Homo sapiens: one gene and its partners. The protein of the gene in region 4 binds, or shares a complex with, the protein of the main gene of each other region. Each region holds a gene or a part of one and is shown on either strand. Other genes may lie near its edges. The genes, in order: PPP2R1A, MOB4, YWHAZ and STK26.

Region 1 (7,030 bases), on a different chromosome or scaffold from region 4:
TGGGCCCATGCCACAATCATCCCCAAGGTCTTGGCCATGTCCGGAGACCCCAACTACCTGCACCGCATGACTACGCTCTTCTGCATCAATGTGAGCCTTCCACCTGCCTGCTGGCCCATCCCTAGGGAACTGGAGCGCGTGGGAGAGGAGGGATGCTAGAGGGTTCCCCAAGGGAGACACCTGGCTTGGGAATGGAGACATGGAGTGCATCTTCTATCCAGAGATGAGTCCTTGGGGAACTGCAGGCAAGGGGGTGGGGCTCCCAGGGTCAGGGTCATAGGGCCTCTGGGACTGGGGACTTGGATGGTGAGGGACCCAGGGCCTGGGAGACTTGACCTGTTGGAGCAGCGATCTCAAGCTTTATGAGCACCCCTCTCCTTCCCTGAGAAATGTGTGTCTCTATCTGTGGTGCGTTGGGTGAGTGTATGGGCTCTAGGTCAGACCTAGTTTTAAATTCTGGTACTGCCATATATTAGCTATGGACCTTGGATAGTTACCTAACCGATGCTTTGGTCTTCTCATTTGTAAATAATTCATACTGTAAAGAATTCATACTGGTAATCACAGCCTGGTGAGCGTGAAGATTAATCAGGTTATACACGCACAGGGCTTAGAACAGTTATGCTACAGGTAGGAAGTGCTCCTGTCTATTTGCTTTTCCTACGATTATAATTATCTCATGTACTACTTATTTATGTGTAAACCATACACAGGGCTAGAAAGGAAGGGATTTAAAAATAAATATAACTAAGTGTTCTGATCATTTCTTCCCACGCCACTCTCTGGAGAGCATTGCTTTAAGGAGGGATCCTAGGGCTTGGTAATTAAGGTCGATCTCCAGAATAATTAAGGGAAGCCTGAGGACAGAGAAACTGGGACATGGTGTTAGGATGGTGTTAGTGGAGTTGGGAGATTCACTCCACTAACTGAGTCACCCGTATTGCTCAGCCTCTGTGGGGCCTGATGATCACCAGAGTGGCCTGGTCAGAGGCAGCAGGAAATGAGAGTTAGCCAGGAGCTTTGCATACTCACCCCTGCCACTCACTGGCCCCCAGGTGCTGTCTGAGGTCTGTGGGCAGGACATCACCACCAAGCACATGCTACCCACGGTTCTGCGCATGGCTGGGGACCCGGTTGCCAATGTCCGCTTCAATGTGGCCAAGTCTCTGCAGAAGATAGGGCCCATCCTGGACAACAGGTGAGGTCTGGATACTCCCCCACACACTGGCAGGGGCTTCTTGTGGGCACCTTAATCTTTGACCTTTGAAGGTAGAGCCCAGGGTCAGAGGCCTGGCAGCGCTCCTTGCTTGCTGTGTGACCTTGGCTCCCTTCCCTTCTCAAGGTGTGTTTTCTCAACTGTAAAATGAACATCACAGCATGAAATAGAAAGAGGGGGTGATGGGTTGGCAGTCCTGTATACTAGCAACAAGTCATTAGAAAATGAAATCACCTTATGTTTTATATGTAAGTATGTGTATAATTTATAATTGCACCAAAAATATCAAATAGCCAGGAATAAATTCAATGAAAGATGTGTATGTAACACCTCTAATGTAAACTGTAAAACACTAATGTGAGAAATTAAAGCAGACCTGACCAAGGTGGGCGGATCAGTTGAGGTCAGGAGTTCACGACCAGCCTGGCCAACATGGCGAAACCCCGTCTCTAGTAAAAATACAAAAAATTAGCCGGTGCGGTAGCACTCACCTGTAATCCTAGCTATTTGGGAGGCTGAAGGCAAGAGAATTGCTTGAATCCAGGAGGTGGAGGTTGCAGTGAGCTGAGATCATGCCACTGCACTCCAGCCTGGGCGATAGAGCGAGACTGTCTCAAAAAAAATTAAAGCAGACCTACATAATATTCACGGATGGGACAGTTCCCTGAACTCATCTTTAGATTCAGTATAAGCCCAATAATCTTAACAGGTTCTTTAGTGGAAAATTGACACTTCTAATGAACAAAGTTGTCTGATTTACACTACCAGAGACGAAGACTTATGACACCACAATAATTAAAATAGATGTGAACACAAGCATATTTAAATCGCCCAATAGAATGGAATCAAGGGTACAGAAACAGTCCCACATGTGTTTAACAGTAGGCATCTCTGCAGTTCAGTGGAGAAATGTATGTTTTTTAAAAAACATAGCTGAGTCAATTTGATATCCATTTAGGAATAAAAGAAGGCTCGCCTCAATGCATAAACAAATTAATTTGAGATGACAGACCAGAACCAGAAAGATTTTAAAAATAAAGGACCTAGAAGAAAATGTAGGAAAATATCTTCTTGAGTTAGCGTAGGCACAGATTTGTTAAACAGCAAACCAGAGGAAGTGATGGGTAAGTTGACCTTCTGTAAAATGTAACGCTGTTTCTCAAAAGACAGCATTTTGAGAGTAAAATGCAAGCCACTGACTGGAGGAAGATGTTTTAATATATGTTTCTGAGAAAGGACTCATCCACAATACCTGTCTACAAATCAGGCAAGACAAGAAAGAGATGGGGAAAAAGACTTGAATAGGCACTTGAAAAAGGATCTCCAAATAGCCAGTAAGCATATGACAAGGGTGTTCAGCATCATTAGCCTTCAGGAAAATGCAAATTAAATCTCAGTGACATATGACTACACGCCTCCCAGAACAGCCAACATTAAAAAAGACTCAGTGGTGCAAATGGTGAAGACATAGAAGAGCTGGAACTCTCATCCATTGCACGTGGGGCTGTACATTTAGGGTTTGATCACTCTGAAAACGGGAGTGGATCTGGAGTGGAATTTGGTGAAGCTTGTTATACAAACAGCCTGTGAAACAGCCCTTCCACTCCTGGGTCTCTATCCAGGAGAAATGAGTGCTGTTTCTGTCAGAAGAATGTTCATGGTAGCTTTATTCATAGTAGCCGTAAAAATGGAAACAACCTCCATGTCTGTCCACAGTAGAGTAGATAAATTTTAGTTCATTCAAACAGTGGAAAACTATTCAGCAGTGACGAAACAAATGCCTGCTATAAGCAGCAACAGGTGACTCTCACAGATACCATGTTGAGTGAGGAGCCAAAATCAAGAAAACACACCATTTATGTCAAGTTCAGAAACAGGCAGAATGAAGGAATCGAGATGATGGAAGTAAGAATAGTGGTTATTTGGGGAGAACAGGGAACTGTCAACTGAAAGTGTGGGACCCACAACTGCAGATTTCTCTTTCTGTCTGTTCCAGGACACAACCTCAGCTTTAGTTTCTCTCCGAAGTCCCCCTCCGTTTTCCAAAACAATTGACTCTTGGTGCAGGCGGATTTCCCTGGGCCCCATAGATGAGAGTGGATGCCTCCTCTGGGCTCCTGGAGGACCAGGAACTTCCCCTTGGGGCCACTTACCACTCCCCTCTTACGTACCAGTTTGGTCTCTTCCTCCTGGCCCGGGTGCCTCATGGCAGAAATCAAGAGTGATTTAGCTCTGTATTCACTCCTAATACATTGTAGGCCTCAGTGAATATGTGTGAAATCAATGAAAGATACCCATTTGCTGGGCCTCAGAGACTTGGGGGTTCTGAGATTCTGTTCCACTTTCCCAGCCTGCTCTGATCTCCCTGTTTGGGGCCCCAGTCCTTGTTTATCATACTTCTGACCTTTAAGTAATTGGTTGGTTGGTTGGTTTTTTGCAGTTTGTTTGGTTTTCCTTTGAGGCAGAATCTCGCTCTGTCGCCCAGACTGGAGTACAGTGGTGCGATCTCGGCTCACTGCAACCTCTGCCTCCTGGGTTCAGGCAGTTCTTGTGCCTCAGCCTTTCAAGTAGCTGGGATTACAAGTGTGCACCACCATGCTTGGCTAATTTTTGTACTTTGAGTAGAGATGGGGGTTTTCCCATGTTGTCCAGGCTGGTCTTGAACTCCTGGCCTCAAGTGGTCTGCCCACCTTGGCGTCCCAAAGTGCTAGGATTACAGGCTTGAGCCCCCGTGCTCGGCCTTGAGTTTACCTTTTTTTTTTTTTTTTTTTTTTTGAGACGGAGTTTCGCTCTTGTTGCCCAGGCTGGAGTGCAATGATGCAATCTTGGCTCACCACAACCTCCGCCTCCCAGGTTCCAGCAATTCTCCTGCCTCAGCCTCCCAAGTAGCTGGGATCACAGGCGTGCACCACCACGCCCTGCTAATTTTGTGTTTTTAGTAGGGACAGGGTTTCTCCATGTTGGTTTGGCCAGGCTGGTCTCAAACTCCCAACCTCAGATGATCCACCCACCTTGGCCTCCCAAAATGCTGGGATTACAGATGTGAGCCACCACGTCCGGCCTGATTTTACTTTTAATTGACTCATAATTTTATATATTTATGGGGGTATAGTAGTGTTTCAATAATGTGTGCAAATGTGTAATGATCAAATTAGGATAATTAGCATATCTATCACCTTAAATGTTTACTGTTTCTTTGTGATGAGAACATTCAAAATCTTCTCTTATAGCTGTTTTGAAATATGCAAAATGTTATTATTAACTATGGTCACCCGCCTGTGCAGTGATCAGAGATTTCTAATTCCTGTGTGTGCCCTGGATTCTTGAGACTCCTCCCACCTTGGGTTTGGTGTATCCGTGTCTGTGTACACTCTCTTGCCCAAGAGCCCTGTGCCCACCTGTTGCCCCAGTCCATCCTGGCTCACCCTCTCTCTCCCTGTCTCCTTTCGCTTTCCAGCACCTTGCAGAGTGAAGTCAAGCCCATCCTAGAGAAGCTGACCCAGGACCAGGATGTGGACGTCAAATACTTTGCCCAGGAGGCTCTGACTGGTAAGACCTAGAAAGCACGGAGCCCTAGCAGGAGGGTGGACTTTGAGGACAGGCACTGGGCCTGTGGGCAGCAGCTTCTGGGAGGGGGAGGTACCTTGGCATTGTGGGCAGAGAGAGGGCTCTGGTTCTGATTCTTGCCTGTTCCTGTTTTCCTAGTTCTGTCTCTCGCCTGATGCTGGAAGAGGAGCAAACACTGGCCTCTGGTGTCCACCCTCCAACCCCCACAAGTCCCTCTTTGGGGAGACACTGGGGGGCCTTTGGCTGTCACTCCCTGTGCATGGTCTGACCCCAGGCCCCTTCCCCCAGCACGGTTCCTCCTCTCCCCAGCCTGGGAAGATGTCTCACTGTCCACCTCCCAACGGGCTAGGGGAGCACGGGGTTGGACAGGACAGTGACCTTGGGAGGAAGGGGCTACTCCGCCCACGTCAGGGAGAGATGTGAGCATCCCGGGTCACTGGATCCTGCTGCTGTAATGGGAACCCCTCCCCCATTTACTTCTCCACCTCCCGTCCTCCCCATCATTGGTTTTTTTTTGTGTGTCAACTGTGCCGTTTTTATTTTATTCCTTTTATTTTCCCCCTTTTCACAGAGAAATAAAGGTCTAGAAGTAGTTGGTCCTCTGGCCTTAGTCATCAGCTTGGAGGAGGGGGCACCACCCCAGAGCCACAACATCTGCGCTTTTCTCTGGAGAAGATCTTGTTACAGGACCCATTATACCCCTATGTCCCGAAAGAATACTCTGGGGATCCCCCCAGGAGTGCTGCTGGCCTTTGGGGTAGAGGGTCCATGAGGTGCTCTGGGTGGTGTCCTGTAGTGCAGTTCAGATTCATAGATGTCGGCCGAGTATTTGGGGGGTTAAGAGCAGGTGCCTTGGAACCAGACTGCCTGGGTCCAAATTGTGGCTCCTTCAGTTAATAGACGTGTGACTAGGAGTAGCTTGTTAAGTCTTTATGAGCTCAGTTTTGTATTGTGTAAAATGAGAGTTACAGTAATACCTAGATTGCAGGGTGGGTGGCGAGGACCAAGTGAATTAGTACCTGGAAAGTGTGTAACAGTTTCAACATGAGAAGTACACAACATGAGAAGCAGAGTTAGCTGTACATTGCCAGAGAACCCCCTGTGGGCCATTTCCTGTGTTCTTGAAGAAGACTTGGGCTTGGACCCTGTCCCCAGGAGGTCTCAGAGTAATCAGGACGGTACTAGGGAGAGAACTGTGGCAAGATAGATCAGTTATCTCGGTATCTATTCTCCCCTTCCTAATGTAGAAGCTCTGATTTTTAACTGGGCAGATGACTACATGGATTCAAGGTATTTTCCTAGTGTCTCTTGAAATTAGGTGTGGTATTGTGACCAAATTCTAGCCAAAAAGATGTTGAACAGAAGTGGTATATGCAGCTTCTAGGAAGTGTTCTTAAGGGGGAAGGCGTCATCCCCCACCTTTCCTCCTTCCTGCACTCTGGAATGTGGACCAGATGGCTGGAGTAGGAGCTGCCACCTGGGGCCAGAAAATGATCTTAGGCGTGAAGGTCAAGTAAGGCAGGACAAGAGAGAAGGAGCCTGCCTCCCCGAGGCTGTGAAGAGCCATGCCAGTACTGTCACCTGGGAGAATTAAACTGGTCAAGTGCCTGTTCGTTTAGGGTTTCATCACTTGAAGGTGACCGGAATTCTAACTGATGGAGGGAGGGGCCCAGAGCACCCTGGAGAAAGGAGCAAGGGACGTATGGCTGGTGGTGTCTGCATGGAAGGGTTTCACAGAGGAAATGATGCTTGAGCACATTTTGACCCAGGTGGTGGAAGGGAAATGTGGCTTTGAGTGACAAGGTGATTTCACCAGCTCAGCCTTCATATTACCACATCCCTACCCTTTGTTAGACTTTATTGTGCCCTAGGGGATGAGGCTGAAGGAGACCAAAAAGCATCTTTAGAAATTTCCATTTATGCCCTGGGCGATAAACTCTCTCCCAGTTGAGAACTACTGCTCTAGAAATGTGAACACACGTGTAACCAAACGTCAAAGTCTGACATTAAACTTTGACTTTCCCCATGGTTAACGCTGCTGGTCCATTGTAACAAGAGTGCAGTGGACCAGCAGCCTTTGCATTCTCAGGAGCTTGTTAGAAATGCAGAGCCTCTCGTCCCTGCCCCGACCTGCTCAGGCAGAGCCTTCATTTTAACAAGATGCCCAGGTTCATCTGCACACTGAAGTTAGAGAAGTCCTGCCTTAAATACTAACCCAGTTTTTCTCTCTTGAGAGTGAGGTTAATG
Region 2 (7,470 bases), on a different chromosome or scaffold from region 4:
CCTTTGAGGCCAGACGTTTGAGACCAGCCTGGGCAACAAAGTGAGACAATCTCTTAAAAAAAAAAAAAAAAAGCTGGGCGTGGTGGCTCACGCCTGTAATCCCAACACTTGGGAGGCCGAGGCGGGTGGATCACAAGGTCAGGAAATCGAGACCATCCTGGCCAACGTGGTGAAACCCCGTCTCTACTAAAATATAATGGTGCACGCCTGTAGTCCCAGCTACTCTGGAGGCTGAGGCAGGGGAATTGCTTGAACCCGGGAGGTGGAGGTTGCAGTGAGCTAAGATCACGCCACTGCACTCCAACCTGGCGATAGAGTGAGACTCTGTCTCAAGAAAAAAAAAAAACAAAAAAACAGACAGAGAATAATGTTCAAATAATACGTTGAAGATGTATGAAACCATACATAGGCACTGACTTGTTCAACTGTGAATATACATTCCCATGCTTCCCTGCTGCCTCAACTTTGCTCGGCTTGTAATGAAATCTCCTGTAGCTCTGCACATAAATGCTATCCACACTTTAAGACACATGACAACTACATACATCATTCACAGTGTGCCAACTTTGCTTTTAGACTGGCTTCCTTTAAGCCAGAATGGCTGCTGCAGGCCCATATTGGGTGATGTCCATTGGCAGAAAAAAGAGAGCATCTCTTTTGGTATCTTCTGAAGAGCAAGTAAATCTTTCTCCAAAGTGCTTCATTACATCGTTTCACATTTCTTTTCTTTGTTTTATTTTTTTTTGAGACAGGATCTCACTCTGTCACACAGGCTGGAGTGCAGTGGTGCAATCATGGCTCACTGCAGCCTTGAACTCCCAGCGTCAAGCAATCCTCCCATCTCAGCCTCCTGAGTAGCTGGGACTACAGGTGTGTGCCACCATGCCCAGCTAATTTTTGTATTTTTTTGTAGAGATGGGGGTGTATGTGGGGGGGGTTATACTATGTTTCCCAGGCAGGTCTTGAACTCCTGGGCTCAAGCAATCTTCTCACCTCAGGCTCCCAAAGTGCTGGAATTACAGGTGTGAACCACAGAGGCTGGCCCTTTCACACTTAGGCCAACAGGAATTTATCCCTCAGCTAGATATGGGTTTACCTTTCCCTGGTCATAGCATGAGAGAAGAACACTGAGCAAGATCAGAGGCTGTTTGCAAAGAGCATGTGAAAGGGGCTGCTTCAATACTTAAGGCGTTCAGCCTTGTACTGTAGTAATCTACATAAGATGCTTTCCCATTAATTTCAAGGCTCTTTGAGGAAAGCTTGTCTTATATATCTTCATGTTTTTCAGCACTTAGCCCAGTGCCTTGCACATAATATGCATTAACTCTTTTTTTTTTTTTTTTTTGGAGATGGAGTCTCACTCTGTTGCCCAGACTGGAGTGCAGTGGCTCAATCTCGGCTGACTGCAATCTCCGCTTCCCGGGTTCAAGTGATTCTCCTGCCTCAGTCTCCTGAGTAGCTGGGACTATAGGCGCACACCACTGTGCCCAGCTAATTTTTGTATTTTTTTTTTTTTTAGAAAAGACGGGGGTTTCACCATGTTGGGCACATTGGACTCAAACCCCTGACCTCGTGATCCGCCCACCTCGGCCTCCCAAAGTGCTGGGATTACAGGCTTGAGCCACCGCACATGGCCTGCATTAACTCTTTTATTTGGATTTAAAAATTCCCCAAAGTGAATTTTTATTGGATAATTTTTTTTAATGTGTCAATGATTTGAAGCTCATGGATAATTTGAAATTACTTATGATACTTTGGCTTTATAAAATATTTTCTTCTAAAGCTTCAAGGTTCCATATTTAATTTTATGCTTGCTTTCATACTTTATGGGGCAGAGGGAAAGAACTGCTATGCACAATCTTCATTACACATGAAGAAACATTTATTTGATAGCTTGTTCAATGTCTTAACAGTTAACAGGCAAGAGAATCTAGATTTTCCGAATCCCAGTCCAGAGCTATTCCTACTGGTGCATATTGCCTTTAAACAGATCACTCCACTCCTCCTTTACCTGAAATATTCAAGTATTTCATGTAACTGTTATTGTTGATCATGCTTTTTGTTTTTCTTTTCTCTCTCCTCCTACCCCGGACAAATTAACCCTAGTTATAAAATTTGTCTTGTTTGGAGGTACGTAATCTACAGGCTGACAGAGGAATGAAAATGTGAAGGTTATGAGCTAGAAACATTCTATCCCTAAAGAACAAGGTCCTTCCTATGAACAAGGCCAGGGTTGACATCAGAATGCAACTTTATTGGACTTTTCAAAAACAACGAATGTGCATTTTGTTCCCGAATTTAACACCTACTCATTCACGTTTTTTGTTGGTTTCAGATGGGTTGAAACAGTTTAACAAATCTGGAATTAAGAGAAAGTGAAGATGATTCCATTCAACTATAGGTGACTATTTACAGCTCAGGGAAATATCACACAATCTGGGAAATGTAAACGTAATCCTTGCAGTAAGTGAGGCGAGTTATCTATAGACCAAGAGGCCTCCCTGGGACTCTGCTATCTCATAGACCCAACCCATCTCTCTAAGGGAGGCAACATTTACGTGTCACTTGTCCTAGGCTCTCGTTGCATTTAATACAAGTTGAGCATCCATAATCTGAAAAGTCCAGAATCTGAAATGCTCCCAAATCTGAAACTTTGAACATCCACATGATGCCACAGGTGGAAAATTCCATACCTGACCTTCTGTGACCGGTTGCAGTCAAAACTTTGTTTCACGCACAAAATTATTTGAAGTTTTATAGGCGCCTGCCGCCACGCCTGGCTAATTTTTGTATTTTTAGTAGTGATGGGATTTCACCATGTTGGCCAGGCTGGTCTGGAACTCCTGACCTCAAGTGATCTGCCCCCCTCAGCCTCCCAAAGTGCTGGGATTACAGGTGTGAGCCACCGCTCCCGGCCTATTTAAAGTATTGTATAAAAGTAACTTCAGGCTATGTGTGTAAGGTGTATAGGAAACAAATGCATTTCACATTTAAACTTAGGTTCCATCCCCAAGAAATCTCATTATGTATATGCAAATATTCTAAAATCCAAAATAATCAGAAATCTGAAAGTGTTTTGGTCCCAAACTTTAAGATGAGGGGTACTTAACCTGTATAAGAATTTGTGATTTGCACGTCTCTGTTGCTGGAGTCAAGGCAATTTGTAGTGAAGGACTGAGCCTTATCATACTTGTACATTAGTGCCTACCATATAGTGGGGCTTAATGAGTATCTGTTGAACGAATAATCTTTTCATATGTAGACGCTGGTTCTGGGAGGGCAAAATTAAGTCCCTATTCTTGAAGAGTTACCAGTCAATACATCTTCCAGAGAGAACCAACTTCCTGTTGTTAAACCCTTCAATGCCTAGTTCTAAGTCACTGACAATTACTCAGCTAGAGACCCACTCAACCTCTCCTCTCCTCTCAAATTCCATTTCTGGAAGCTGTTACATGGCCCTTCCCTCAGCATTCTCAATACACCTTCTATCTAGGGACACTTGATGTTTTCTTCTTTTGGAAATCATGCTACTGTATGCGTTTTTTACTTTTTGAACTGTCTTCCCATCTGCTATCCCAAGGCCTCCCTCACCCCAGATAAAAGATTCAAGGTTTCTAAGCAGGAAAAAAAGTTTGCGAAAATGCTGTGGTTTCTTAAGAGAGAACACTTAAAATTTGCAACAAAGGAAATGTGGAATCCTGTAAGATGTAAAACCCTCACCACCTGTCAAGGACTACTAATTTCCTCCTCCTGCTTCTGACTTGAAAAACACGAGCTAAATCTGTCTGCCTAACGCACAAAACCAGATGTCCACTCTTCATCTCACATAATTGACATCTGCGTCTTTTATCTACGTAAACAAACTTGTCATTGAAAAAGTCCTTGGCTTTGAAGTCGCCGGATGGCGTAAATAACACTGACACTCAAATCCCCCGTCTGATTTCAGATTGGGTCGATTTCACGCAGGTTCTATAGAATTTGCCAAGACTGCTGGCCTGTTTTCTACCCTGATTCCTTAGGTGGCTTCTGGGACAGAATTACGGTTCTCTAAGTATTTGCTTGCAGGTGGGTTTACTGAAACGGTCGCCACTATACGAAGTTCGTTCTTCCCGTGTAACTAACGAGAGCCCATACCAACGTGCAACGCAGCCGTGCACACTGCCGCAGCGGTCGCTGCGATCACGACCTTTCAAACCGCCCCGCAGCCCTCGCAAAGAGGCTCGTGGCGCCCGCCTTCCGGTGCCTCAGTCCCTGCCAGTAGCCACCCGACGCCGTCCGGCTGTTCCTCGTTCGCCCTCTCCCTCCGCCTAGCCCGCTTCTACCCGGACGGCTCCCGGCGCAGGCTGCAGCTGTTCCGTCAGCTGCCGCTCCTCCTCCCAGACGCAGAGCGCCGCTCTGCCCCGCCCCCCGCGCAGGCTGCCGTCCCTACATCCGGGTACCGACTCCAGCCGCCTAGACGCTGGCACTATGGTCATGGCGGAGGGGACGGCAGTGCTGAGGCGGAACAGGCCGGGCACCAAGGCGCAGGTACCATGTCTGCACTTTTCTTGTCGGGCAACTAGGTGCCGAGCAGTGCTGCGCCCGGAAGCTGGCCGCCACTGCGGGGAGGTTGGGCCGAGGCGGCAGGCGGGCGGGCTGGGGCACTGGTGCCCGGCCTGCTCTTCCGGAGCTGCAGCCCCTCAATTTGGCTGAGGCGGTGGCGGCCGCCGTGAGGCCTGCGGAGCTCCGACCCAGGGGTAGGCGTGAGGGGCGGGTGGGGTCTGCTGGTGGTACCTGCCTGCCGAAGCCCTGGGCTGCGAGCCTGTCAGCAGCAACGGCTTCTTCTCGCCTTGCCCCTGAGCCCCAGCTGACTAGCATTGGAGGGGCGCGACCAGCCTGGTGGAGACCCCCGGGGTTTCCTGAAGGTCGGGGCCGCTGAGGTGGGAGGGGGTGTAAACACAGCCTACCTCGACCCGGCGTCCAGTTCCTACCTGGCCTGGGAAGTACCTACCCGTTTCCTGCCATCCAGCTTGTCTAGCCGGATCCGGGTGCCGATATTCTCCTCCTTGTTTCCCTTTGACCACCTCTCCCTGCCGCTTTCCCTGGAGCTGTTCTCTGGTCCAGCAAGTTTTCATCACTAAGTTGTGACTTGTTAGATGTCATTCCTTGCTAATATGCGTGAAGCATAGTCAGAGAATGAACTGATTATAATTTTGTCAGCTTTTTTGTAGGGCATTATGTGTGGTAAATTGGTGCTTGATTAGGCATTGTTTCTTAGGGTTTGGAAAAGATGGGATGCCTCACATTAAAAATAAATAAATAAAATTGGCATCCAGACTTGAACTGATTAATTGCTAGCCGAAATGGCTTGCTATAGACTAGATGCTCTGAAATCGGAAGAGATGTGTTTATAAAATGTTAAAAAGTGATGCAAATGAAAATTGAAACAAAACAATCGTGGAGCTATGATTGTATGTCTGAGAATAGATTTTAATTTCTTATACAGAATTATGGAAAGAACACCTTTCGAAGGGGGCATACAGGTATTGATTACCTCCCCAGATTCATGTTACAGATAAGGAAACTGAAGCCCAAGAGAATTAAGTGGATTTGCCCAAGGATACATAGTCTCCTGATTCTTAATTCACTGGTGACCTGTTCTCTTTAACAAGCTGCTTCTAGTGCTGAATTTCAGAGAAAATTTTAAAGTCTTATTTTGGAGTCACATTAAGCTGTCAGTTATTCCTACTGACAGTTTTGTTTTCATACTACTGGAAATTTATCCGTTACATATGCTTGCTTTTTACCGTTTCCACACTTTTCTTCCTCATGCTCTTTTCTCAGATACCTTTACATCTTATTCTGTGGAAACATTGTTTCTGATTACATTTTTATGTTCAGAAGTAGACTTTTCTGTTCATATTCTGAGAGTCATCTCATTTATTCATAAGTTCTTAATTTTGAAAGGTTAGAAAATAAAATATTTAATATCGTAACATACTTGCTATGTTGCTGTAAGTCACATAGAAGAAAACTTATTGTCTTTTTTTTTCACATTGTCATGGATCAAGGTTGTTAGATAAAATATAACAGAAAAAGGATAAAAAATGAAAAAGACTGCTTACGCCGTAGTTTGTCCTATCTTGTTTATCACATGAATTTCGTTTAGTGAAATGGATCTGTTCTAAAATGATATATTTAGAACCGTATCTCCTTCCCTATTGGGTCAAAAGAAAAAAAATTAAAAACTATAATAGAGGGCTGGGTGCGGTGGCTCACGCCTGTAATCCCAGCACTTTGGGAGGTGGAGGCAGGCGGATCATCTGAGTTCAGGAGTTCAAGACCAGCCTGGCCAACACGGTGAAACCCCGTCTCTACTAAAAATACAAAAAATTAGCTGGGCGTGGTGGCGGGCGCCTGTAATCCCAGCCACTCGGTAGGCTGAGGCAGGAGAATCGCTTGAACCCGGGAGGCGGAGGTTGCAGTGAGCCGGAATCGCGCCATTGCACTCCAGCCTGGGTAACAAGAGCAAAACTCGGTCTCAAACAAACAAACAAAAAACTATAGGAGAGTAGGTGGAGTATCTTCCTACATTAAAAAAAAAGTTGGTTAGACTGGAATATAGGCACATAGTTGGTTTTCTTTTTTCTTTTTCTTTCTTTCTTTCTTTTTTTTGTTTTTTTCTTGAGACAGAGTTTCTCTCTTGTTGCCCCCAAGCTGGAGTGCAATGGTGCGATCTCGGCTCACTGCAACCTCCACCTCCCGAGTTCAAGCGATTCTTCTGCCTCAGCCTCCCGAGTAGCTGGGATTACAGGCGCGTGCCACCACGCCCAGCTAATTTTTTGCAGAAACTGGGTTTCACCATGTTAACCAGGCTGGTCTCGAACTCCTGACCTCAGGTGATCTGCCCGCCTGGGCCTCCCAAAATGGTGGGATTACAGGCGTGAGCCATTGCACCTGGAGGTTTTTTTTTTTTGTGTGTGAGGCAGAGTCTCGTTCTGTCGCCCAGGCTAGAGTGCAGTGGCACGATCGCAGCTCACTGCAGTCGCTGCCTCCCAAGTTCAAGTGATTCTCCTGCCTCAGCCTCCTGAGTAGCTGGGATTGCAGGTGCCTGCCACCACGCCCGGCTAATTTTATTTTTATTTTTATTTTTATTTATTTTATTTTATTTTTTGAGACAAGAGTCTCACTCTGTCGCCCAGCCTGGAGTGCAGTGGCACGATCTTGGCTCACTGCAAGTTCCACGTCCCGGGTTCACGCTGTTCTTCTGCCTCGGCCTCCCGAGTAGCTGGGACTACAGGCGCTAACCACCACGTCTGACTAATTTTTTTTTGTATTTTTAGTAGAGATGGGGTTTCACTGTGTTAGCCAGGATGGTCTGGATCTCCTGATCTCGTGATCCGCCCGTCTCGGCCTCTGAAAGTGCTGGGATTACAGGCATGAGCCACTGCGCCCAGCCAATTTTTTTTGTATTTTTAGTAGAGATGGGGT
Region 3 (5,028 bases), on a different chromosome or scaffold from region 4:
TCACCTTCTGTGGATAACCAAAACTTTCCTGTATCTGAAGGTTATTTGAAGGCAACTCTGTGGTGTACTTAACCTGCTTATATAGTGGTTACAAAAAAAGTAAATTTGTATATTGAGATGTTTTTGTATCTTGAAGCTAAGTGATGCTGCTATCTTTTTAAGAATGCTTTCCAACTAAAACATTCAGGTATCTTGGCACTTATATGAAAACGCCCCCCCCCCCCCATCCCACTGAAACTTGCTGAAAAATCTTTCCTTCTTTTACCAGTTGTGGACATCGGATACCCAAGGAGACGAAGCTGAAGCAGGAGAAGGAGGGGAAAATTAACCGGCCTTCCAACTTTTGTCTGCCTCATTCTAAAATTTACACAGTAGACCATTTGTCATCCATGCTGTCCCACAAATAGTTTTTTGTTTACGATTTATGACAGGTTTATGTTACTTCTATTTGAATTTCTATATTTCCCATGTGGTTTTTATGTTTAATATTAGGGGAGTAGAGCCAGTTAACATTTAGGGAGTTATCTGTTTTCATCTTGAGGTGGCCAATATGGGGATGTGGAATTTTTATACAAGTTATAAGTGTTTGGCATAGTACTTTTGGTACATTGTGGCTTCAAAAGGGCCAGTGTAAAACTGCTTCCATGTCTAAGCAAAGAAAACTGCCTACATACTGGTTTGTCCTGGCGGGGAATAAAAGGGATCATTGGTTCCAGTCACAGGTGTAGTAATTGTGGGTACTTTAAGGTTTGGAGCACTTACAAGGCTGTGGTAGAATCATACCCCATGGATACCACATATTAAACCATGTATATCTGTGGAATACTCAATGTGTACACCTTTGACTACAGCTGCAGAAGTGTTCCTTTAGACAAAGTTGTGACCCATTTTACTCTGGATAAGGGCAGAAACGGTTCACATTCCATTATTTGTAAAGTTACCTGCTGTTAGCTTTCATTATTTTTGCTACACTCATTTTATTTGTATTTAAATGTTTTAGGCAACCTAAGAACAAATGTAAAAGTAAAGATGCAGGAAAAATGAATTGCTTGGTATTCATTACTTCATGTATATCAAGCACAGCAGTAAAACAAAAACCCATGTATTTAACTTTTTTTTAGGATTTTTGCTTTTGTGATTTTTTTTTTTTTGATACTTGCCTAACATGCATGTGCTGTAAAAATAGTTAACAGGGAAATAACTTGAGATGATGGCTAGCTTTGTTTAATGTCTTATGAAATTTTCATGAACAATCCAAGCATAATTGTTAAGAACACGTGTATTAAATTCATGTAAGTGGAATAAAAGTTTTATGAATGGACTTTTCAACTACTTTCTCTACAGCTTTTCATGTAAATTAGTCTTGGTTCTGAAACTTCTCTAAAGGAAATTGTACATTTTTTGAAATTTATTCCTTATTCCCTCTTGGCAGCTAATGGGCTCTTACCAAGTTTAAACACAAAATTTATCATAACAAAAATACTACTAATATAACTACTGTTTCCATGTCCCATGATCCCCTCTCTTCCTCCCCACCCTGAAAAAAATGAGTTCCTATTTTTTCTGGGAGAGGGGGGGATTGATTAGAAAAAAATGTAGTGTGTTCCATTTAAAATTTTGGCATATGGCATTTTCTAACTTAGGAAGCCACAATGTTCTTGGCCCATCATGACATTGGGTAGCATTAACTGTAAGTTTTGTGCTTCCAAATCACTTTTTGGTTTTTAAGAATTTCTTGATACTCTTATAGCCTGCCTTCAATTTTGATCCTTTATTCTTTCTATTTGTCAGGTGCACAAGATTACCTTCCTGTTTTAGCCTTCTGTCTTGTCACCAACCATTCTTACTTGGTGGCCATGTACTTGGAAAAAGGCCGCATGATCTTTCTGGCTCCACTCAGTGTCTAAGGCACCCTGCTTCCTTTGCTTGCATCCCACAGACTATTTCCCTCATCCTATTTACTGCAGCAAATCTCTCCTTAGTTGATGAGACTGTGTTTATCTCCCTTTAAAACCCTACCTATCCTGAATGGTCTGTCATTGTCTGCCTTTAAAATCCTTCCTCTTTCTTCCTCCTCTATTCTCTAAATAATGATGGGGCTAAGTTATACCCAAAGCTCACTTTACAAAATATTTCCTCAGTACTTTGCAGAAAACACCAAACAAAAATGCCATTTTAAAAAAGGTGTATTTTTTCTTTTAGAATGTAAGCTCCTCAAGAGCAGGGACAATGTTTTCTGTATGTTCTATTGTGCCTAGTACACTGTAAATGCTCAATAAATATTGATGATGGGAGGCAGTGAGTCTTGATGATAAGGGTGAGAAACTGAAATCCCAAACACTGTTTTGTTGCTTGTTTTATTATGACCTCAGATTAAATTGGGAAATATTGGCCCTTTTGAATAATTGTCCCAAATATTACATTCAAATAAAAGTGCAATGGAGACCTTGGGGTCTTTATTTCCAGGAGAAAAGATACCTTCTGCATCTAGGGCAACAATCCTTTTCCCTCGCAGCTCTTTCTTTTACCTCACTTACTGATTTCTCCTGACCCCCAAGCCAAGGAGGTAAAATAATTATATATATATATATATATATATATATATATATATAAAGTAATTATATTTTATAGCTAGACTGAAGAGGTGGGAATTTTTTTGTTGTTTTTTTTTTTTTTGGAGACAAGAGTCTTGCTCTGTCACCCAGGCTTGAGTGCAGTGGTGCGATCTCGGCTGAGTGCAACCTCCGCCTGCTGGGTTCAAGCGATTCTCCTGCCTCAGCCTCCCAAGTAGCTGGGATTACAGGTGCCCGCCACCACACCTGGCTAATTTTTGTGTTTTTAGTAGAGACAGGGTTTCACCATGTTGTCCAGGCTGGTCTTGAATTCCCGACCTCAGGCAATCCGCCCATCTCAACCTCCCAAAGTGCTGGGATTACAGGCATAAGCCACCGCGCCCAGTAGAGATGTGATATTATTCAAGTAAATAAAACCTGAAACTTGGCACATTTGCCTATTTAATGTGCATCAGTCATCTGAACTAGGTTGATCCTGGAATAATGAAAACACTTCACTAGTATTAACTAATGTTTTCTACATAGTAGTTCCCAATAGATTAAGGAAAATTTCCAACCTGAGATTCTTTGTTTTGGAATTTGAATAATGTGTTTGTAACTATTCCTTGATTGTCCCAAATCCAGGCTTTACGTCTGCTTTTGTCAATGTAACATCCTAGTGCCAGGAAATTGGAAAATCCAATGACTTTTTGTGTGTAAAGTACTGGAATTTTTTTGTTCGTTTGTTTTTAAGACGGAGTGTCAACTCTCGCCCAGGCTGGGGTGCAGTGGCCTGATCTCGGCTCACTGCAACCTTCTCCTCCCAGGCTGAAGTGATTCTCCTGCCTCAGCCTCGCAAGTAGCTGGGACTGCAGGCATGTGCCACCACTCCTGGCTAATTATTTGTATTTTTAGTAGAGAGAGGGTTTCACCGTGTTAGCCATGATGGTCTCATTCTCCTGACCTTGTGATCCGCCCACCTCGGCCTCCCAAAGTGCTGGGATTACAGGCGTGAGCCACTGTGCCCACCCTGGTATGTTTTTTTTAAATTGGCCACTTAAGAGTTGTCCTTCAGAAAGTGGAGCAGCAGTGTGATTAGTAAAAACGATGGGCTTTCCTGCAGCTCTGGCTTATGGTCTTTGTTTTTCCAGTTAACAGCTGTTACTTCATGCTGTTATAGGGGGTGGGGGGAGAAAGAGAAAGAATATGTCTAGTGGCTTAATTTTGGGGCTCAATTTGTTTATTATGTTTTTCCTGCAAAAGAGTCACCAGTCTTGTCATGGCTCAATGCATATTTTAAAATGAGTCAAAGCCAATTTGGAAGCTGCTATCTTAGGTTATTTGTAGTCAGGCTTCAAATGGAGAGTGAAACTTTGACTTTGAAAACTGGTGCTCTATGCTCAATGATGGTCTTACACATTCCTCTAGGGAAAGGTCAAGAAATAAATTTGGCTTGATTGTATTCTCTCATTTACCATATAGGAAATACTATGGTAGAACTGAAAATATGTACAATAGTAAAGTGGTGGCTGAGACTGGGCACTTGGAAAATAGACTTGGATTCTTTTCTAAGTGTGAAACTAATTAAATACTTTTATGTGACTGGTAGTAGTCACAGTCTCCTTGATTGATTCTAGTTCCTTTTCAAAGTGGAGAGACCTGAATATAGATTGTAACAGGATGTCCAACCTTGCCAGACAAGCAGGCATATATGTCTCTGGGATGCAGAAGCAGTTACAAGTTAATATATTTAAGCATAATGTTAGCCAATCCTAGGTGATACCAGAGATGTGAATATTTGATCATATTTGAGTTCATTCCTTGAAAGTCCAAACCTAACTGGTCTTAATTGATTACTTCTTAGTATTCCGAATTTTAGAATTTAAAACCCTATGAATTTTCAGTTTGTGCTTACATTTTCTAACATTGGATGTTTGCTTTGGCCAGCTGCTGTTCTGTGTGTTTTCTTACAAAGGCTTAGAGATTCTGGCTGGGTGTGGTGGCTCACGCCTGTAATCCCAGCACTTTGGGAGGCTGAGGCGGGTGGATCACCTGAGGTCAGGTGTTTGAGACCAGCCTGGCCAACATGGTGAGACCCCATCTCTACTAAAAATACAAAAAATTTAGCCGGGCATGGTGGTGCGTGCCTGTAATCCCAGCTCCTCGGGAGGCTGAGGCAGGAGAATTGCTTGAACCCGAGAGGCGGACGTTGCAGTGAGCCAAGATCATGCCATTGTACTCCAGCCTGGGCAACAAGAGCAAAACTCTGTCAAAAAAAAAAAGGGCGGGGGGCGCTTAGAGATTCATGTTTGAGTGAAGATTTGCAGAATGGGACCCAAATGGATATACAGCACAATCAAGATGCAGGGAATTAAGAACTTAACATGTGCTTGTAGGTTTGGGTTTGGGGGCTATGTGGGAGTATAAAAAATAGGCTATGTCTAGACTCCCGAGGGGAACTCGTTTTAAATGCCTA
Region 4 (7,205 bases):
CCAGCCACAACACTGAGCTAAAATCTTCAGAGAACAATGATTTTCAAGTCTGTTTCTTGGTTAGTAGCTCCTAATGCAAAAAGTGCGGAGCATGGTTTCTCAAACCTTATCATTATTGACATTGTGGACTGAATAGTTCTTTCTTGTGGGGACTGCCCTGTGCGTCGTAAGATGTTTAACAGCATCCCTGGCCTCCACTCTCTAGATGCCAGTAGCACCTACCTGCCTATTTGTGATACCCAGAAATGTTCTCCAGAAGGCATAATTGGTCCTAGTTGAAAAACATGCCCTTATTTCACTGCCGCCTGTATTAAAGTTTGGCTATTTCCATCTACCTACACTTTAGCTAAGAACCAGTCAATTCAGTAAATATTTGTAAACATGGGTAAAGTTAAATATTTAATACAGGTTGAGCATCCCTAATCTGAAAATCTGAAATCTAAAATGCTCCAAAATTGGAAACTTTTTGAGTGCTGACATGATATCACAAGTAGAAAATTCCATACCTGACACCTTTGCTTTCTGATGGTTCAATGTATACCAACTTTGTTTCATGTACAAATTAAAAATATTGTATAAAACTATCATCAGGCTATGTATATAAGGTGTATCTGAAGCATAAACGAATTTAATGTTCAGACTTGTGTCCCATACCCAAGATATTACGTATATGCAATTATTCCAAACTCCAAAAACATCCAAAATCTGAAGCACTTCTTGTCCTAAGCATTTTGGATAAGGGATACTCAACCTGAATAGAGGGTATGACAAATGTCAGGAAATTGAAACCAGGTGCCAAATGTAAATTATTAAGTTTTGAGGCCTCAAGAACACTGTCTAACTTGAAATTCACTAACCTTACCTAATCTGTGTATAATGTTACTCAAAACCTTACCTAATCTGTGTATAATCTTATTTTATTTATATGGTTATTAAGTATTCACAGCCATTCAGATCACATCAATCAAGCAGGTACCAAATCCTTTCTGAGGTGCTATGTTACACTCTACGTGTGACCAAAAAGCATAAGTTGTGTCTCTCCTCAAGAAACGTTTTCCATTAAACTACGGGAATACACTGTAATATATTTTCAGACTCTGGGCTGACTTTTTTTTTTTTTTTTTTTTGGAGATGGAGTCTCGCTCTGTGGCCCAGGGCGGAGTACAGTGGCATGATCTCAGCTCACTGCAACTTCTGCCTCCCAGGTTCAAGCAATTCTCCTGCCTCAGCTTCCAGAGTAGCTGGGATTACAGGCACACACCACCATGTCCAGCTAATTTTTGTATTTTTAGTAGAGATGGGGTTTCGCCATGTTGGCCAGGCTGGTCTCAAACTCCTGACCTCAGGTAACCTGCCCGCCTCGGCCTCCCAAAGTGCTGGGAACAGGGGTGAGGCACCACGCCTGGCCTGGGCTGACAATTTGAAGTAAAATATTTAAGTTTCCTTTGTGTGTGTGTGTAACAAAAGCGTACTTGAATTTCTTGTCATTTTATTTAAGAATTTGAGAAATAATCCAGTTCAAAGTGGAAAAAAAGTTTCTAATGCTCATAAAATTTGAATTGTTTTCAAATGTTGACACCTTCACAAGATTTAATTTATAGATACACACACACACACAGACACAGACACACACACACACACACACAGGAAAAATCATTTAAAAGCCCACAAGCAATCCCATGTAAAAACTCAAGTGATCTCTATCAATTATAACAACAACTGATGCTTTATTTAATAGCAGTAAACCTAAATAAAGGCTAAAAAGCTCACTAAGATCTCAAATGCAATGTCTTTCAGGAAATGTCTCAATATTCCAGGTCTCAGCATTAAGCTTTTATTCTTCCACATAGTTACATAACTCTGGCCCAGAATGATGTCAGAGAAAGTCATTTCTCTGATATGCTTAATTTACTTATCTATCAAAATTATACAACTGGCTCATAAGTAGTTGTGAAATTAAACTAGCAGGAAAGAATTTTGGAGACTAAATAATGAAAGATGTAACACACAATAAACTGAACAATTTAAATGTTCAGTAAGGGCAATGCCTAGGGGTTTAACCTGACATCAATAAAATATATAGTGTATACATTATGCACCTAGTAACCTCAGTGGAGAATTCAAAAGAAGTTCATTCATTCATTCAACAATTATTTATTGAGGGCCTACTACATGCCATGAACCTAGTCTCTGGGGATACAGCAATGGACAAAATGTATAAAAAGCTTGCCCTCAGACTCCTGCCATCCTACCTGAATCATTCTCATGTAAGAGAGGCTGGATCTCTGCCCTCAAGGACCTAATATGGGCACACAAAACAAATGAAATATATGAAATAAGAAGAAAGAACTACAGTGTGAGCGCTGCTCACATTGGAGGAGTTTGAAGGAGGGCTTGGAGCAACTAGGAAGGGTCAATGGAGGTGAGATTTGAGACAGGTCTTAAATGATGGAGCTTGATTCAGACCCTTGCGACTTAAAAGTGTGATCTAAACATCATCACCATGTGAGAGCTTGTTAGCATTGCAGAATCTTGGGCCCAGTCCAGACATGGGAGATAAAAATCTGCGCTTTTGAGGGAGCAAAAGAACCCTCGGATTTCTATGGACATTAAAAGTTTAGGTGGCACTGCAGGTTTCCGGTCAGGCTGGCAATGTTGTGAGCTGGGTTGGTGGGAAATCGAGACTAGATTGGAGCCTAACATTAGGTTAGAAATAGTGAAGGGCTGGACTTGGGGAACTAGGAGTAAGGAAAATGCAATTGTACCTTTTATCATCATTAAACACAAACAGAAACCATAGAGAAAGTAGTAAGTTTATCACCAGTCAGAGGGACCTGCGTCTGAATTCCCAGCTGTACCACTTCTTAATTGCGTGACATTTCGGTCAAATTATTTAACCTGGTTGAGCCTTTTTCTTCATCTGTAAAATGAGGGGAAATCAATAAGACTCCAGAAGGCCCTTGTACAGGTTCAGTAAGGTATTAATAACACATAGAAAGCACTTAGCAGTCCCTGGCACAATGAAAATAATATCCATTAATAATAACGATATTGATAAGAATTATATACTATTCTCTGAAAAAGATTTAAAAGGAAGAAGAGAAACTATCTTTTACCACTAGAGGCCCCCCACCGTGTGGTGCGTAGAGACCCATAACAAATTTCAAGGTAAGGAACTTCATCTTCATTTTAAACTGGCACTCGACTATTACTTTTTTAAAAAGTAATTAACCCCTTACGTGTTCCCAAAGGTGCCTTCATAATGAAATTCCTGTTACTATTATTACCAGTGTTACTGTCGCTACTGTTAGAGTACTCTCAAAAGAGCCTGTCTCCCTCTCCTGGAGTAGAACTTAAAATGGGGCGGAGGCAGGGAGTTACCAAAACCACTGCAGTGTATGCTGATTTCAATAACCTGTACTGCTAACGATCCAATCTCATTTCCCAAGCCTCTACTATCCTCATTAATTTTTCTGCCGATGTACCATCTGTTTTCCAATTTCCCTCTGCCTTACACGTGCAGAACTTGTGGTAGAGAGAAGCCCTAGTTTGGCCGTTCTGCAAGGGATAGCCCAGGAGGTAGGGGGAACCTTAAGTTGAAGTCACCTGAAGCATGTTTGGGGTCAGGGAACTCGGAAAGCAAGAGTGTGGCCACAGATCTGCCCAGAGGCGCGACCCCCAGCTGAGGAGACCAGATGGCGGGAAAAAGCGGGGGTCCACCGACTCCGCGGCTATCTGTAATCCTACCCTTGGCCAGGCCGGGGAGCCAAGAAAGACTTCCAACACTCCCCAAGTTTCAGCTCAAGTCGTCTCCGAGGCTGCGTGTGCCCCAGCCTCGCACGCCTCCCTGCAACGTGGCCGCATCTGGGGCGCCCTCATACCCTCAGGGTTTCCCAAACTCTTCCATTCTCTTCCCAGGCCCAGCCATGTCCCAGGTCTCCGGGTCCCCGGGTTCTCCTCTCCGCGTGCCGGGAGAGTCTCCAGCTTCTCAGACTCCAGCAACCCCAGCCAAACCTCTTCGCTGCCTGGAGCCTTGGCTCCCGCGACACCGCCCGGCTGCGGGGCGGGGGCAGGGCCAACGGCGGAACCGCCCCCAACCGCCTCCCAGGCCAGGCGAGCAGGCGGGTGGCTGGGGCGCCTCCACCTCCTCTTCCTAAAGCGGCGAGGCGCAGAGGAGCGGCATCACTCGAGCCCAGGTCCCAGCCACCACCACTCACAGCGCTCGGCGTTCAGGAAGAGGAGCAGCAGCGGAGGCGGCTGCTTCAGCGGCGGGCGGGCGCCAGAAAGGTAGACTGAGTCCCAGGGAGCTGCGCCGCTAACAGCCCACCTCCTAGCCCCGGGCTACGCGCCGCCAGCCCAGTAACCCCACTTTTGTGTGTCCTCCCAGGCCCCGATCGAAAAGCCTGGGAGGGCCGCCGAACTACCCCCGGAGGGAGGAGCCAGTCCGAACCCAAGGCGCCACCGCCGCAGAAGCGGAGCGAGGCAGCATTCGCCTCCATGGCCCACTCGCCGGTGGCTGTCCAAGTGCCTGGGATGCAGGTGAGGAAGCGCAGGCCGCCCCCGCCGCCCACGTGACTGCTTGGGAGCCCGGTGCGCCCTCGGTGCTGGGCACCGGCGACAAGGGACGGCCCCAGGGCTCCCCTGAGGGCAGGGCCGGTCACTATGGCCAGGTGACCTGGGAGTAGGGCTGGAGGTGTTTCCTGGTGTGTAGGCTAGGTAGTGCTCTTCGCTGGGAAGGCGAGGCGGGACTGGAGCGCGCAACTAGGTGGAGATTGAGGGCGGTTGGGGGTATAAAAATAGGCCAGAGCCACAGACACCTGCGCCTGCTGAGCTTGGCACGGTTGGGGATGGGGGGGCGGAACTTAACCTGGGAGAGATGGAAGTGCCTTGGAATTTGTGGGGTATAACGCGAGTAGTGAGTGCCCTACACCCCCCACCCCAAACACACACTCAAGTTGGGGCGGGGCAACACCAGGGGTGGCGGCGGCGGCGGCTTGAATTGGGCTCTTCCTGTGTGCGTAGGGCTAAGAGAGAGGTGACCTCTTTCTCCCTTTCGGTACTGCTGCTTAAGGGCAAAGTTGTAGCTTGCTCCCCGACCTAGCCCAGCCCATAGTGTGGCGTGAGAAATGCTGGTTCTGTTCAGAGTCACTGAGGTGATGACTTCTCAGCCCCCTCCGTGCCTTTCCCACAAGATGACTGTTACATGTGGTTAAAGGAAGCTTTTTGTCTTGGACAAGGGACTACTGCATGGGACCCAACTTGTTACTCGAAGTCTACCCAGCCCAACCCCCTCCCATTATATTTTCATTTTATTAAAGATAAGCTATGTCAGAAAACTTTTTATGCTGTTATGTTTTTAAATCGGTGCATTTTAGGCTATCTGCTAAGTGTTATCCAAATTTACTAACTTTTTAAAGCATTCATGTTCTATTTTTTTTTCCTTTGCTAGATGGCCTAAACAACCCATTTAGGGGCTAAAACCACTGAAGCCTCAGTCTTTCATGATCTAAAATGTGAAAACAAACTTTTTTGAAGTTCAAAAATAAAATGTTTATAGTAAATAGCTTATATTTCTAGTAGAAATCAAAGAGCTGTAGACTGGGGCCTCAATTTACTTATTGATACATGGAGTTTTTTTTTTTTTTTCAGTGTTCTCATTTTATGAATGTCCACAAAAGTGATTTTTAAATTCTTTCCCAAAATGGGATTTATTTGTGCACCTAGAACTCTTGGTGTGTCCTAAACACCAGACATTTCAGCTGCATTTAGGGCAAGTCTGGGTTGAGTCTCAGGAAGTTAGTGTATATTAAATAAAGAGAGAGAGAGAAAGGGAAATAGGAAATAGTAGGGCTTAAAAAAAAAGATTAATCCACTCAAGCCTTGCAAAATGCCTTAAACTTTCTTCCTCTCAGGCGGCCTCCCCTCTCCTTCCCTCCTTCTTTTCCCCACGCACCCTGCCCCACACCCCATTCATTCAGTTCTGCCTTTGATTGTATCAAGGGAATTCATAGTTCACAATACTAAGTACAGTTTTGCTGTTTGATCTGGGAAAAAGTGACATTTTCTCACCGTGCTCTTCTTTCCATTCTGTGGAGAGTAAAACGATGCACATGTGAAGTTTGTCTCTGAGGGTCTCCATGCTTCTCGCTCCATTGTGTGCGCGAGCCTGCGTGTGTGCGTCAGCAGAGTGAGTGCCTCCAGTTCATCAAGTTTGTGATTCTGGGGAACTCTGTGTGCTGAGGGGAAAATGGTTTCTGATTTTTATTTTATTTGTCTTGAACTTATTGAATTTATATGGTTTAGGAACTGCTTGCTGTTCAGTATTTCTGATTGCTCCCTGCTTTTAATTATCTGAGTTGCCTATCTCTTGAATTTTTAAATCTTAATTAATGTGGATTCGAATGTGAATCATATACTTTAAATTACAAATTCTGCCTTTCACTCTGTGCCCTCTGAGTTGTGATTACTTTGTCCCACCTAATTTGAGTAGGGCAAACATCTCAACGTTAGCAAAGAAGAGAGGAATCTTTTTTTTTTTTTTTTTTGGTCATTCTCTTCATCTTAATGAAATGGTAAATTCTTAACTTCTTATTTCCATTTTATTTCTAATGTAGTTCTTAAGCACTTTGTGCAGCACACAGTTTTTTCCATAGTTGAAAATGTACAATACCTTAATAATAAATTTGATAGCATGCAGTGTGACTCTTGAAGCTAGACTATTTTTATTATTGTTATGTAGCAAAATATTGCAGATGAGATGCAGAAATCTATCGTGAGCTTGTAAAATTCTCCTAGAGTTTTATGAAGGCGTTAGGAGCAACTTTTAGACCTTTAGAAAACTTCAGTTAGCCATGTGTTCTTGAAATTACTGTATAGTGTTTCCACAAATCAGGGTGAGGTAGCCGACCAGCCTATAACTTTTTAACAGTTTATTTTAGAGAATTATGAAGATTGATGGGAAAAATGATTTTTCCAGAAATACAAAGAAAATTACTTTATCCACAATTATTTTCTCCCTCTGAGGAGAGACGTGAAGTAGAAGCCCAGCTACCTGTTCTATCACTTAAGATTTCCAGCATTCCTGACTTTCAAACAAAGAAATTGCTGTTGCCACTAGTTTAAAATAGAAAAGAAACTTGGAGTGAAGAAAGAAAACCCAGGATTTCGTCCAGTTCAAACTCTTCCTTATGAATTAGTTATTCAAA

What was found.
Region 1: STK26 (region 4) and PPP2R1A share a complex: the UniProt entries of both Homo sapiens proteins name them as parts of the core of STRIPAK complex.
Region 2: the proteins of STK26 (region 4) and MOB4 are in contact, whole or in part, in a crystal structure (PDB 5YF4), measured with the Homo sapiens proteins. Residues at the interface, in NP_057626.2 of Homo sapiens: Phe326, Thr327, Thr328, Val329, Arg330, Lys331, Lys332; in NP_056202.2 of Homo sapiens: Gln99, Gln105, Trp106, Ile107, Phe108, Leu109, Ala111, His113, Lys114, Thr115, Pro116, Glu118, Tyr124, Arg161, Arg162, Arg165.
Region 3: the proteins of STK26 (region 4) and YWHAZ are in contact, whole or in part, in a crystal structure (PDB 5XY9), measured with the Homo sapiens proteins. Residues at the interface, in NP_057626.2 of Homo sapiens: Arg316, Glu317, Asn318, Asn319, Thr320, His321, Pro322, Glu323, Trp324, Ser325; in NP_001129171.1 of Homo sapiens: Lys49, Asn50, Gly53, Ala54, Arg56, Arg60, Lys120, Arg127, Tyr128, Leu172, Asn173, Val176, Tyr179, Glu180, Asp213, Leu216, Ile217, Leu220, Asp223, Asn224, Leu227, Trp228.

The regions. Positions count from the first base shown.
Region 1 is NC_000019.10:52,221,044-52,228,073, forward strand, and holds part of PPP2R1A (serine/threonine-protein phosphatase 2A 65 kDa regulatory subunit A alpha isoform), read left to right. Parts: coding exon 1-90; intron 91-976; exon of another isoform or gene 977-1,055; coding exon 1,056-1,198; intron 1,199-4,673; coding exon 4,674-4,765; intron 4,766-4,921; coding exon 4,922-4,938; 3' UTR 4,939-7,030. UniProt on the Homo sapiens protein: The PR65 subunit of protein phosphatase 2A serves as a scaffolding molecule to coordinate the assembly of the catalytic subunit and a variable regulatory B subunit.
Region 2 is NC_000002.12:197,511,620-197,519,089, forward strand, and holds the start of MOB4 (MOB-like protein phocein), read left to right. Parts: upstream 1-4,446; 5' UTR 4,447-4,467; coding exon 4,468-4,527; intron 4,528-4,678; exon of another isoform or gene 4,679-4,736; intron 4,737-7,470.
Region 3 is NC_000008.11:100,915,993-100,921,020, reverse strand, and holds the end of YWHAZ (14-3-3 protein zeta/delta), read left to right. Parts: intron 1-268; coding exon 269-328; 3' UTR 329-4,498; downstream 4,499-5,028.
Region 4 is NC_000023.11:132,019,121-132,026,325, forward strand, and holds the start of STK26 (serine/threonine-protein kinase 26), read left to right. Parts: upstream 1-4,181; 5' UTR 4,182-4,287; intron 4,288-4,387; 5' UTR 4,388-4,497; coding exon 4,498-4,539; intron 4,540-7,205. UniProt on the Homo sapiens protein: Serine/threonine-protein kinase that acts as a mediator of cell growth. Modulates apoptosis. In association with STK24 negatively regulates Golgi reorientation in polarized cell migration upon RHO activation.